2 separate regions of the Homo sapiens genome follow, and region 2 is reported to be linked to region 1. Evidence: microRNA targets listed by miRTarBase, many of them from high-throughput screens and not tested one by one. Region 1 holds a microRNA gene; the other region holds the end of a gene's coding sequence.

Region 1 (7,266 bases):
TGGTAAGATTTCTGGAGAAGAGCAATGGATTATGAGCCAAGGGTGCACTTGAGTTCCAGGACAGGTACACACAGTCCCGATGGGAGCACCCAAAATCGAGTCTACGATGTTGAAGAATATACATTGTCACATACACAAATATTCTCCAGGATAGACCATAGGCTTGGTCATAAAAACTCAATAAAATCTGAACAGAAATACGTAAGTATGGGTGGGGTGGGTTGGCTCACACCTCTAATCCTAGCACATTAGGGGGCCAAGACGGGAGGATCACCTGAGCTCAGGAGTTCCTGAGACCAGCCCCAGCAACATGGTGTAAACCCATGTGTATGAAAAACACAAAAGTGAGCCAGGTGTGGTGGTGCATGCCTGTAGACACTAATTCAGCAGGTTTAGGTGGGAGGTGGAGGTTGCAGTGAGCCAAGATCGCACCACTACACTCCAGCCTGGGTGATAGAGCCAGACCTTGTCTCAAAAATAACCAACTGGCCGGGCGCGGTGGCTGACGCCTGTAATCCCAGCACTTTGGGAGGCCGAGGCGGGTGGATCACGAGGTCAGGAGATCGAGATCATCCTGGCTAACATGGCGAAACCCTGTCTCTACTAAAAATACAAAAAAAAATTAGCCAGGTGTGGTGGTGGGTGCCTGTGGTCCCAGCTACTCAGGAGGCTGAGGCAGGAGAATGGCGTGAACCCGGTAGGCGGAGCTTGCAGTGACCCGAGATCCTGTCACTGCACTCCAGCCTCGGCGACAGAGTGAGACTCTGTCTCAAAACAAAAACAAAAACAAAAAACAAAAAACAAAAAACAAAAACAAAAAAAAACCAGCCAAACAAATAAAAAACATACACACACAAAGAAAGAAAAAAATACCCAAGGTTATATCAGAGTATTCTCTGTATTTAGAACAGTATTTTGTGTGTATATGATTATATTATATATAAGTATATATATAACGAAATATATACCATATATTTCTGAGACCCTGTGTCAAAGAAAGTTCCATATATTGTATGCTCACAGGAAGAAAAATTCCTACACAAGTGCTTGCTTTGGCAGTTCACATAAAAAAAAATTGGAATGACAGAGATTACGCTGGCTGCTACACAAAGGTGACACCCAAATTTATGATGTCCCATATTTATCTATTTATTTTTATTTATTTTATTTATTCATTTATTTTTGAGACGGAATGTTGCTCTCTGGCCCAGGCTGGAATGCCATGGCTTGATTTCAGCTCACTGAAATCTCCTCCTCCTGGGTTCAAGGGATTCTCCTGCCTCAGCCTCCGGAGTAGCTGGAATTACAGATGTGCACCATTGCACCCAGCTAATTTTTGTATTTTTAGTAGAGACGAGGCTTTGCCATGTTGGCCCTGTTGGTCTTGAACTCCTGACCTCAGGTGATCCTCCCGTCTCGGCCTCCCAAAGTGCTGGGATTACAGGCATGCGCCACCGCGCCCGGCCTATTTTTTACTTTCTTGAGACTGAGTCTCACTCTGTTGCCCAGGGTGGAGTGCAGCAGAAGATTTCAGCTCACTGAAAGCTCAGCCTCCTGGCTTCATGTTGGCCAGGCTGGTCTCGAACAACTGATCTCAGGTGATCCTCCTGTCTCAGCCTCACAAAGTGCAGGAATTACAGACAAGAGCCACCATATGCACACTAGTCCCATATTTAAAATTAGGAAAAAAAAAAACAAAACAAAGATGCCCACACCTGAACAGCAAATCGTTTGTTGTTCAAGTACATCTCAAATACATTGTTTATCTAAAATACAAGTTTAACTGGGGTCAGGTATGAACCAAAGAACAGTCCTTACTTTCTTCTTGTCTGTGCATGGGGGGTTAATATTCACATGTGGTCCCATCTACCAAGGACTGGGGAGGGGCAGAGGCAGGAGGATCTAAGCCCACTTCAGCCAGGGCAGCATAGTGAGACCGCCGTCTCATGCATTTATCTCCTGGTCATGCACCCAGATTTCAGCTTCATTTCCCCAATAAACACTGAAGCCCCATGCACTCCACCTCCGTGCTCTTGCTCATCCCATCTGCAGGGACACTGAGGTCCCCTCAACTCCACCTGACCCCACGTGAGGTTCTATACCAGTGCCAGAAAAATTTCCATAAAGTAAAAGGTGCTGATGGCTGTGCCCGGTGGCTCACGCCTGTATTCTCAGCACTTTGGGAGGCCGAGGCCAGCGGCTCACTTGAGGTCAGGGGTTTGAGACTAGCCTGGCCAACATGGTGAAACCCCACCTTTACTAAAAAAAAAAAAAAAAAAAAAAAATCAAAATCAAAAAGTAGCTGGTTGTAGTGGTGGGTGCCTGTAATTCCACCTACTCAGGAGACTGAGGCAGGAGAATGGCTTGAACCTGAGAGGCAGAGGTTGGAGTCAGCCGGGATCATGCCACTGCCCTCCAGGCTGGGTGACAGCAACACTCCATCTCAAAAATGAATGAATGAATAAAAAAGAAAAATACAAATATTAGCCGAGTGTGATGTCAGGCATCTGTAATCCCAGCTACCCAGGAAGCTGAGGCAGGAGAATCACTCGAACCCGGGAGGTGGAGGTTGCATTGAGCCAAGATCGCGCCACTGCACTCCAGTCTGGGTCACAGAGCAAGACTGTATCCCATAAAAGGACCATCTGAGCCCAACAGGCCTATCTTAAAAAGTGCTTCTCTAGTCTCTCCTGGGCAACAGAGACCTTGTCTTAGAAAAAAAAAAAAACACAAAACAAAACACACACACCAAAACAAAAAACAAAAACCTAACAAACAAAAAAACCAACCAAACAAACAAACAAAAAAACAGACTCCCAACATCATCCAAGTCTGATTACAAGCATGGTCTGCAAATGTATTACCAAGATCAGCATCATCTTCAACGTGGCTTTTCCCAAACGGTAACACTCTAAAGGGAGGCACTTTGTTTAAGAGAAAACAAACAGAAAGCGCTTCCCTTTGGAGGGTCACAGCATGGGATCTTCTTGCTCCAGCACTCTGGGTTTTTTGTTGAAATCTTCCTTGACCAGGTTAAAATGGCCACAACAATAAAGATGCATTTATTGGCCCTGTTTGCCTGTTTTCTAGAATCCAGAACATAAACCCCTAAAAGGACCATCTCCAGTTCCTTTCTTCAAAGGCTCTGCAGGTTAGCCTTGTTCATCAAGGGGCAACCCTCCTGAGTTTTGCCTCTAAAGAGAAAAAGCAATGCCTACTACACATACCTTATATTTAACCAAGAGAACTGGGCTGGATTTCTAGAGAACAGCAATGGACTTTGAGCTGAGTGTTCACTTGAGTTCCAGCACAGGGATACATAGTTCCGATGGGAGCATCCAAAATGGAGTCTAAGATGTTGAAGAATATACATTGTCACACACACAAACATCCTCCAGGATAGACCACAGGCTAGTGGATCACCTGAAAGCGGGAGTTCAAGACTAGCCTGGCCAACATGGTGAAACCCGTCTCTACTAAAAACATAAAAATTAGCTGGGTGGGGCAGTAGGTGCCTGTAATCCCAACTACCTGGGAGGCTGAGGCAGAAGCATCACTCGAACCCAGGAGGCGGAGGTTGCAGTGAGCCTAGATCATGCCAGTGCTCTCCAGGATGGGCAGCAAGAGTGCAGGACACGATGGTGGGTGCCTGATGCCTGAATTCCCAACAATTCGGCAGGCTGAGGTGGGAGAATCACTGGAACCCGAGAGGTGGAGTTTCCGGTGAGCAGAGATCCTGCTACTGCACTCCCAACGAAACAAGAGTGTGTCTCAAAAAATCAAAAAATAAAAAGAGGACCACTTAAGCCCAAGAAATCTTGGTGGAAGGTGCTATCCACCCACGCCTGGGCAATAGAAAGCCTGTCTTGGAAAAATTTCAAATCACAAACAGAACCCCGACATCATGCAAGTCTGATGATAAGCACGCTCTGCAAATGTATTACCAAGATCAGCAGCATCTTCAACGTTGCTTGTCTCAAACAGTAACACTCTAAAGGGATGCACGATCTTTTCTTTTATACAACAGACAGTGCTTCCATCTAGAGGGTCACTGCCTGAGATCTTCTTTTTTTTGACACGGAGTCTCACTCTGCCGCCCAGGCTGGATGCGGTGGTGGGATCTCGGCTCATGGCAACTTCTGCCTCCTGGGTTCAAGCGATTCTTCTGCGTCAGCCTCCTGAGTAGCTGGGATTAGAGGCACCCACCACCATGCATATTGCATATATGACTGCATATATGACCTGGTCATGCACCCAAGATGTTGGTTTCATTTCCCCAGTGAAAACTCAAACCCCATGCACTCCACCTCCGTGCTCTTGCTGAGCACATCCCATCTGCAAGGGACACTGAGGTCCCCCTTTGACTCTACCTGACCCCACATGAGGCTTTATAAATCAGTGCCAGAATAATTTCCATGGACTAAAAGGTGTTAATGGCCATGTGTGGTGGCTCACGCCTGTAATCTTAGCACTTTGGGAGGCTGAGGTGGGCAGATCACCTGAGGTCAGGAGTTCGCAACCAGCCTGGCCAACATGGTGAAACCCCGCCTCTGCTGAAAATATAAAAATTAGGCCAGGCGTGGTGGCTCATGCCTGTAATCCCAGCACTTTGGGAGGCAGAGGCCGGTGGCTAACTTGAGGTCAGGGGTTTGAGACCAGCCTGGCAAACATGGTGAAATCCCATCTCTACTAAAAAAAAAACAAAAAACAAAAAACAAAAAGTAGCCAGGTGTGGTGGTGGGCTCCCGTAATTCTAGCTACTCAGGAGGCTGAGGTAGAAGAATTGCTTGAATCCGGGAGGCAGAGGTTGCACTGAGCAGAGATCACGCCTCGGCCCTCCAGCCTGGGTAACAGTGAGACTCCATCTCAAAAACATAAATAAATGAATTTTAAAAAATGAAAATATTATCCAGGTGTGGTGATGGGCACCTGTAATCTCACCTACTTGGGAAGCTGAGGCAGGAGACTCGCTTGAACCTGGGAGGTGGAGGTTGCAGTGAGCCGAGATCACACCACTGCACTTCAGCCTGGGTGATAGAGAGACTCTGTCCGCTAAAAAAACCATTTGAATCCAAAAGACCTAGGTTGGATGTGCCACCGCACTCCAGCCTGGGCAACAGAGATCCTGTCTTAGAATAAAAAAGCAAAACCAAAACAGAACCCCGCCATCGTCCAAGCCTCATGATAAGCATGCTCTACAAATGTATTACCGAGATAAGCATCAACTTCAACGCTGCTTTTCTCAAACCGTAACACTCCAAAGGGAAGCGCCTTCTTTTCCTTTGGACAAGAGAAAGTGCTTCCCTTTGTAGGGTCACAGCATGAGATCTTCTTGCTCCAGAACTCTGGGTTTTTTGTTGGAATTTTCCTTGCCCAGGTTAAAATGGACACAAAAATGAGGATGCATTTATTGGCCCTGTTTGCATGTTTTCTGGAATCCAGAACATAAACCCCTAAAATGACCATCTCCAGTTCCTTGCTACAAAGAATAAGCAGGTTAGCCTTATCCCTAATCCCAGCACTTTGGGAGGCCGAGGTGGGCGGATCACCTTAGTTCAGGAGTTCAAGGCCAGCCTGCCCAATATGGTGAAACCCTGTCTCTACTAAACGTACAAAAAAATTAGCTGGGGTGGTGGTGTGTGCCTGAAAATCCCAGTTACCCGGGAGTTGGGGAAGGAGAATCACTGGAACCCGGGAGACAGAGGCTACAGTAAGCCGAGATTGCGCCACTGTACTGCAGCCTGGGCGACAGAGCAAGACTGTTTCAAAAAAAATAAATAAATAAAAATAAAAAAAATTTAGTGTCAGGGACAAGGAGATTCAACTAAAAAGATACAAATAAATAGAAAAAATAAGAACATTGTATTAATATTGACATCCATTGGGATTACAGAATAGACTGGATAGATGTGGAGGCCTATATTTTTTGTTTTGTTTTGTTTTGAGATGGAGCCTCGCTCTGTCGCCCAGGCTGGAGTGCACCTGCGCGATCTTGGCTCACTGCAACCTCCGCCTCCTGGGTTGAAGAGATTCTGCTGCCTCAGCCTCCTGAGTAGCTGGGATTACAAGCACGCACCACCACGCCCACTTAATCTTTGTATTTTTAGTAGAGACGGGGTTTCACCATATTGGTCAGGCTGGTCTCGAACTCCTGACCTCCTGATCCGCCTGCTTCAGTCTCCCAAAGTGCTTGGATTACACACCTGGCCCTTACTCTCCTAATGAAGGAAACATGGTTTGGATTGATTAAACTAAACTGATGAAAGGCCTGTATTTGAAGTGACCAACCCAAATGGAGCCTCAGGAACCAGATGGCATGTAATCTGCGTTTTTAAAGAGATGGGATCTTGCTATGTGGCCCAGGCCGGAGTGCAGTGGCTATTCAAAGGTGTGATCAGTGCATGGTATAGCCTTAAAATCAAAGGACCCTCCCACCCTAGCCTTTGCAGTAACTGGGACCCTGTGTGTCCCAGGATGCCTGGCCGTGTCACCTATCTTTGAAATGGGACAAGGTGGCTCACACATTTAGGATCACTTAAGCTCAGCTGAGACCATCCCAGGCAAAAGAGACCCCATCTCTACCAAAAATTAAAACCTGAGCCCAACTACTTGCGAGGCTGACAAGAAGACCACTTGAGGCTGGACGTGGTGGCTCACGCCTGTAATCCCAGCACTTTGGGAGGCCAGGGAGGTGGATCACTTAAGGTCAGGAGTCGAGACCAGCCTGGCCAACATGGCGAAACCCTTTCTTGTCTAAAAATACAAAAATTGGCAGGGTGTGTTGGTGGGTGCTTGTAATACCAGCTATTTGCGAGGCTAAGGTGAAAGAATCACTGGAACTCCACGGTGAGTGGAGATCCTGCCACTGCACTCCAGCCTGGGCGACAGAGGTGGGAGTTACAGTGAGTGGAGATCCTGCCACTGCATTCCAGCCTGGGCGACAGAGCCAGTCTCCATCTCAAAATAAAATAAAATAAATAAAATAAAACAAAATAAAATAACAGGCTGGGCACGGAGGCTCACACCTGTAATCCCAGCACTTTGGGAGGCCGAGGCGGGTGGATCATGAGGTCAGGAGTTTGAGACCATCCTGGCCAACGTGGTGAAACCCGGTCTCTACTAAAAATACAAAAATTAGCTCGGCATGGCGGTGCGTGCCTGTAATCCCAGCTACTCAGGAGGCTGAGGCAGGAGAATCGCTTGAACCACGGAGTCGGAGGTTGCAGTGAGCTGAGATTCCGCCACTGGACTCCAACCTGGTGACAG
Region 2 (7,000 bases), not on the chromosome of region 1:
AACTAACTACCAGCATATTTTACTTCACTCATTTGGTGGAAGACAAAATACTTGTTACAAAGCTGTGTTCCCATGTTAACTAGCAAATAAAGGGAGCAACGGTGAGTACAATTGGCAGTGGTGAGGACGGTGATGAACTGATACAAGGTCTAACAGTCACGTAATGTTAATATGTCAAAGAGAAGTGATAAAGATACCAACGGAGTTGGCTCCTCAAATAATGGATTCAGGGCTGTATAACCCACTGTATCGTAATGAAAATAAGAGGAATTTTGTGTTTGTAGCAAGGTTGTGATGGTGAAGTCAAGCAGAAGCTACCACCATGGCCTTTCCTGGTCCTTAGAAGGAATGAAGTGATTCCACCCTCTCCCTAAGACAGACTCCATCACTGTGGATTATCAGCTGGCCTGCTCCACCAAGGGAAACTTGACTCCAAGCCTCTCTGGATTAGCAGCCATTTTCTAGTGCAAGAGTGAATCAAAGTAGAAACGAAAATTCAATCTGATACTAATCTCTCTAGGCAATATCTTTTTTGGGTTTTCTTTTAGGTGGCAGGAATAGTGGCATATTTCTGAATTCTGTGTTAACCTTTCATTGTTCAAACCACTGTTTAGTATCGTATAGTTTCTTCTCGGTTATGTAAGTTTAAAAATGTACGAAATCTCTCTCTTGCCCTACAAAGTGTGGCAGGATAGGGTAGTGGTTATACGGACTCTGGAGCCAGACCACCCAAGTCAGAATTCAGCTCTGACACTTAGCAGCTGTGTGACTTTGGGAAAGTTGCAACCTCTTGATGTACCTCAGTTTCCTCATGTGCAAATGAAAATATTATGGGGTTCTACCTTTGGGGGTTGTTGTAAGTTGGTGCAAATAAAGCACTTAGAACAGAGCATGGCACATGGTAAGCATGCCAATACATGTTATTGGCAACTATTGAGTTTACCTTGTAGTTCACTGTTCATAACTTAGGCAGCAATCCTGAGCTAAACTTAAACAAAATTAGGGCTTAATCCCCATGTTAATTATGGGGCTGGTGTATGTGTGTTATGGGACTGTGGGGCCTGTCAAGATAGTCCTTCTAAGGTAAAGGGTAAGTTGCTGCATTTGGCCCCTCCTACAACCAAGAAAGAGGCACAATGCCTAGTGGGCCTATTTGGCTTTTGGAGGCAACACATTCCTCATTTGGGTATATTAGTCCTGCCCAATTATCAAGTGACCTGAAAGGCTGCCAGTTTTGAGTGGGGTCCAGAACAGAAGGCTCTGCAACAGGTCCAGGCTGCTGTACGAGCTGCTCTGCCACTTGGGCCATATGACCCAGCAGATCCAATCGTGCTTGAGGTGTCAGTGGCAGATAGGGATGCTGTTTGGAGCCTTCGGCAGACCCCCATAGGTGAATCACAGTGGAGGCCTCCAGGATTTTGGAGCAAGACCCTGCCATCTTCTGCAGATAACTACTCTCCTTTTGAGAGACAGCTCTTGGATTGCTACTGGGCTTTGGTGGAAACTGAACATTTGACTATGGGTCATCAAGTCACCATGCCACCTGAATTGCCTATCATGAACTGGGTGCTTTCTGACCCATCTAGCCATAAAGTGGGTCATGCACAGCAGCATTCCATCATCAAATGAAAGTGGTATATACGTGATCGGGCTCGAGCAGGTCTTGAAGGCCAAGTAAGTTACATGAGGAAGTGGCTCAAACGCCCATGGTCTCTACTCCTGCCACCCTGCTTTCTCTTCCCTAGCCTGCACCAATGGCCGCATAAGGAGTTCTCTATGATGAATTGACAGAGGAGAGAAGACTAGGGCCTGGTTCACAGATGGTTCTTCATGATATGCAGGCATCACCCAAAGTGGACAGCTGCAGCACTACAGCCCCTTTCCAAGACATCCCTGAAGGACAGTGCTGAAGGGAAATATTTCCAGTGGGCAGAACTTCAATCAGTGCACCTGGTTGTGTGATTATATACTGATACGTGGGCTGTAGCCAATGGTTTGGCTGGGTGGTCAGGGACCTGGAAGAAGCATGATTGGAAAATTGGTGACAAAGAAATCTGGGGAAGAGGTATGTGGATGGGCCTGAGTGGCCAAAAACTGTGAAGATATTTGTATCCCATGTGAGTGCTCACCAATGGGTGACCTCAGCAGAGGAGGATTTTAATAATCAACTGGCTAGTATGACCCATTCTGTGGACACCACTCAGCCTCCTTCTCCAGTCACTCCTGTCATCGCTCAATGGGCCCATCAACAAAGTGGCCATGGTGGCAGGGTTGGAGGTTACACATGGGCTCAGCAACATGGACTTCCACTCACCAAGGCTGACCTGGCTACAGCCAGTGTTGAGTGCCCAATTTGCCAGCAGCAGAGACCAACACTGAGCCCTCGATATGGCACCATTCCTTGGGGTGATCAGGCAGCTAGCTACCTGGTGGCAGGTTGATTATATTGGACCTCTTCCATCATGGAAAAGGCAGAAGTTTGTCCTCACTGGAATAGACAATTACTCCAGATATGGGTTTGCCTATTTTGTATGCAATGCTTCTGCCAAGACTACCATCCGTGGACTCACAGAATGCCTTATCCACAATCATGCTATTCCACACAGCATTGCCTCTGTCCAAGGCACTCACTTTATGGCTAAAGAAGTGTAGCAGTGGGCTCATGCTCATGGAATTCACCATCATCCTGAAGCAGCTGAATTGATAGAAAGGTGGAATGGCCTTTTGAAGTCACAATTACAATGCCAACTAGGTGACAATACTTTGCAGGGATGGGACAAAATTCTTTAGAAGGCCGTGTATGCTCTGAATCAGTGTCCAATGTATGGTACTGTTTCTCCCATGGCCAGGATTCAAGGGTCCAGGAATCAGGGGGTGGAAGTGGAAGTGGCACCACTCACCATCACCCTAAGTGATCCACTAGCAAAATTTTTGCTTCCTGTTCCCGCGACATTCTGTTGTGCTGGCCTAGAGGTCTTAGTTCCAGAGGGAGGAATGCTGTGGATATGGGTACAGCCGGGCGCGAGATTTACACCCTCTCCCCCGCACTTTCAAGGGCCCTCCAGAGCTCACCAGATGCCGCTGGAAGCGCGACGCTTTCCAAGGCGCGGACCCCTCTCTCCAGGCGAACCCAATTCCAGGGCGCCCTGCCCTTCACAAGGAGAAAAGAACTCTCCCCGGGGCTTCCATTGGCTTCTCTGGGATCCTTCGCATTACTGTGCTGGACGCTTGGCAGTGTCCATCTCCGCCACTCCGGATTCGGGATCTGAACCGGACTCCCTTTCGATTGGCTGAGGGCAACAGAGGCCATCGCCTGTCCATTCAGAATGGCGCTCACCTATTTCTCAGGACCGAATGACCCATGTCCAACTGCTGTTCACATGGAACCCTTCTCCACTTCGGCCTTTGAAGTTCTCTTTAGAATATGTGCTACTACCACCAACATCTGCACCTGCGGCGGCTCTGCCCGGGCCCAGCCCTGGGCTTCAAGACTCACCGCAGCGGCCCTCCTACTAGACGCATAGCGTCCACGGGGCTGGCGGGCGGGGGGGTGGTGACCTCCACACATACACTGCTTCTGTTCACTCTGGACTGCTGGCGATGGCCTGGTACAGGCCCAACAATCCAGTGCCATCCATTTTCAGGGGAACCCTGACTAATACAGGGATCATTCAATAAAAAGACTCCAACTCTTAGAAATCAATTTAGTCACTATTTATTATATTGACATATTTACAAAATAATACAAAGTGAAATACCACTCTAATTCACCGTATTACACGAGGGCTGCATACAGGCAAGACAAAGTATATGGAAAACATTTACTTCTGTCTTTGGTATTAGAACTCTACACAAATCTGCAGCATTTAAATTTTCCAAAACAAAGTATTAAACGTGGACAAAGATGTAATTGGTAATGTCACAAAAAGGGGCTCCAATATCCTCTGCTAGGAAACCCCCAGGCCCATGAAATGCAACAGGAAGACTAAACACCATTTATAAGGAGAGGGTCTATTGACTAAAATAAACAATACATGCTACAATACCATCCACAGGAGTGTTTCTGCTTGTGTGAGGCTGCTCCCTCCATAACAAAGTTCGGCTGACGGCAACAGACAAAACATTCCCGAGACAGAGTCGCAGATAAGACTTTACAGGAAAGAATCCATTCCAAGAGTACACTTTGAGGTGTAACTTTATTGTACAGAACATTTTATAAAATACATTTTTGTGATCATTTACACATATACAAAGACTTAAATGGTTTTAGCAAATAATAATTTTTCTAAAACACAATCACAGTTTACATAATTCTGAGGTAAAGGTCTTGAATCTATCCTAGATGAAAAGTCCTAGCCCATGAGGGTCTCTAACAGGGGGATGTGTCCACTGAACCTTGAGTTCTGGCACCCAGACGGATTGATGAGAGGGCAGGCTACACCTGCTTCATTTCAGAGATGATTCAAAATTTCAGAACTTAATGCTCCTGGTTCAGTTCTACTAAGTTAATGCTTCTTTTTTTTCCCAACATGTAACTCTCTCAGTCTTGTCAGAACACAACTTCTGCTATGGAGGAAATATTTCCATCAGGAAAGGGCCAAGTTAGTGTCTTAACTTGACTGCCTTGAATGGGGACTCTGGACCCCAGGAAGAATGTATTTAGGCTCCTCACAAAAAAGAGTGATGGCTGGGCAAAACAAATGTACTGCAAGACCCATCTTCCCTCCAGTTAATACACTCCCAGGATGGGCTGCAGAGGGGGAGACTCTGAGAGAAGCTGGAGGCCCACAAAAGTCCACTGACCCTCTTTCTGTCCCAGAAATGAATAAAGGACCCAGTTGTGCTTTCCTTCCAAAATCCTCAACAAAGTTGTTTGTGCTCCAAGAAAATGTGGGAATAAAAAAATCATGTCCCAGGTCATCTTTGTGTGTGTGCGGGGGAGGTGGATGGGAGGAAAAGGCATGTATTAATAGATACTGCTGCTATAAAATGACATAAATTATAGCCCTTGATCTGTTTCTGTAAACAATGCCAGCTTCTTCAGGTTATTGGCAACTACCCTTAATATACCTAGCCCAGATCCTTTCATAAAGTCAAGTGCTATATTTCCAAAATAATCCTATGAAATCATGAAGGTTGTGAAGGTTTAATATGAAGACACCCTCTCTTTTGTGTGCTTTTTTCACCTTTTATAAAGAAGTTTGCAAATATAATCAGGACACCAAATAAGTAATTAAAACCCTTCAGGGATAGCTCACTTATGATGCAAACCTGAGCACTGGCCTCATATTTTATAATATCATGAGTAACATCTGAGGGTAAAAGTGTTTGCCGGGCAATGAGTCACCTTGTTGGACAATTTAAGACAAGTAAGGCTGGATCTTTCCAGTAAGCTGCTCAAATGGCAGAACTCCAATTTTTCGTCATGCTGGGAAAAGGAAAATTACACTTCTGCTTCTTTGTACCATCAAATAATCTGGTGAATGGCATGTGAGAATAAAGCAAAAGTGTATTAAGATTTACTGATGACTGGCATTCATGGTATCTGACCAGAAGAAGTAAAGGGAAGCACGAACCAATGTGTTTGCAGGGCTCTTCTGGGAAGAACAGCTCTTGGTTTTGCCCTGGTCCCTGACAATGACAGACTGGCAGGCTGTTTCTTGCACAGCTCTAGGCAAGCCATTAATCTGTCAGTACCAGCATCTTTAGAAATCTCAGCATTAAGACTTAGGAGGGGCTAAGGAGGGAGGATGTTGAACAGCCAGAAATGCAGCTTTTTAAACACTTCAGTTAATTCACGATGCTGTGCAGGCTTCTATTTATCCCTTCTCTGAAATTTTTGGTGCAGGGTGCAACACGGGATTTGAATTTATTCATCCTCTTCCACATATGTGGATGGAAACCAGCCCACCTAAAAAAGAAAAGCAACCAACACAGCAACATGACTTTGTATCTGACACTTCAAAGGATTCTACAAACAGAGTATTTTGTTTTCATAACACCCCAATTAAACTGGGGTTTTATGTCCATTGTAGGTGAGAAGATTGGTTTAACTGCTCTTAGAAGCCTAATAGAGTAAATGATCGAAATGGAGGAATAAAATAAACAGTGTTCTAATCCACTAGCACACAAATAAATATGTAAATTAAGTATAATACAGGGGGGCTCTGCTGCATAATGATTCCTATTTCTGCTGTAGAACAGGATGAAAAGACAGAGGTACTATGTCCCATTCTTTCCAATTTACATCAGCAGTTCTTATAGATATTTTGCAATACACATAAAGTTTAGCTCTATGGCTCAGGGTCTAAAAAGAACTGAAATGCTCCTCGACTCTTTTCCAAGCAGCAAGCTGTCCCACTTGCCCAGGTGAATTTTATTTATGTCACTATCATATTCATTTCAAATATTTTCAGCGAGTCCCTGGTATCAGCAAAACACAGCACCAGTTTCCAGAGGGCAGAGGCCTGTGGGCTGAAAGCTGTAATACAGTATAGAGGCTTCTCCCTGGTGCCACAATGGGTGCAAACAACTGCTCAGTCCCCTTCTTTCACATGCACCAGCACATCGAGAGGGCCAACTTACCCTGCCATTTACTTCTCCTCTCCACCAGCCATTTGCACTCATCTTTGTGTAAATCTTCACCACATCTCCTTTCAACAAGGACAACTCTCTCATATCTCTTGCACAGAAGTCATACCGAGCGATGGCAATGCCCAGCACTTTTGGACTTAACACTGTCAAGAAATGACAAGCAATGACAGTAGGTTTGCAGTTCGTTAACAACCATAACAACCTAATCAGATGAATGTTATTGATGCTATCAAATGCACAGTCGTGATTTCATTACAGACCAGCGATAATGGCAGAGGAGCTTGAAAGCAGCAGAATTGCTGTTTCAATTCAATCAGGTGCAAGCAAATTCGCTTCATAAGTTTAAAGAACCATTGTCCTGTTTTTCCATTCTTCATAAGAACCTCAATCAAAGTAAGGACTAGTT

Evidence for each region. The annotated mature microRNA hsa-miR-524-3p reads GAAGGCGCUUCCCUUUGGAGU and lies in region 1 at 5,255-5,275, opposite strand. An mRNA with a match to its seed (bases 2 to 7 or 8) in the 3' UTR can be bound and repressed. Matches are read on the target gene's strand: a 7mer-m8 pairs with bases 2 to 8, a 7mer-A1 pairs with bases 2 to 7 and ends in A, and an 8mer does both.
Region 2: the mRNA of VAV3 is a reported target of hsa-miR-524-3p. The part of its 3' UTR that is shown has no 7-base or 8-base seed match.

Annotation. Positions count from the first base shown.
Region 1 is chr19:53,709,063-53,716,328 of GRCh38, reverse strand. MIR524 (microRNA 524) reads right to left here and starts at 5,327; the gene lies at 5,241-5,327. MIR517A (microRNA 517a) reads right to left here and starts at 4,061; the gene lies at 3,975-4,061. It overlaps MIR519D (microRNA 519d), which reads right to left and starts at 2,982; the gene lies at 2,895-2,982.
Region 2 is chr1:107,567,462-107,574,461 of GRCh38, forward strand. It overlaps VAV3 (vav guanine nucleotide exchange factor 3), which reads right to left. Exons shown (of 27, transcript NM_006113.5): 26 at 6,586-6,737; 27 at 3,700-5,911. The coding sequence ends at 5,870. Among named protein-coding and RNA genes, the nearest start is that of MIR7852, 330 kb to the right of the region's middle.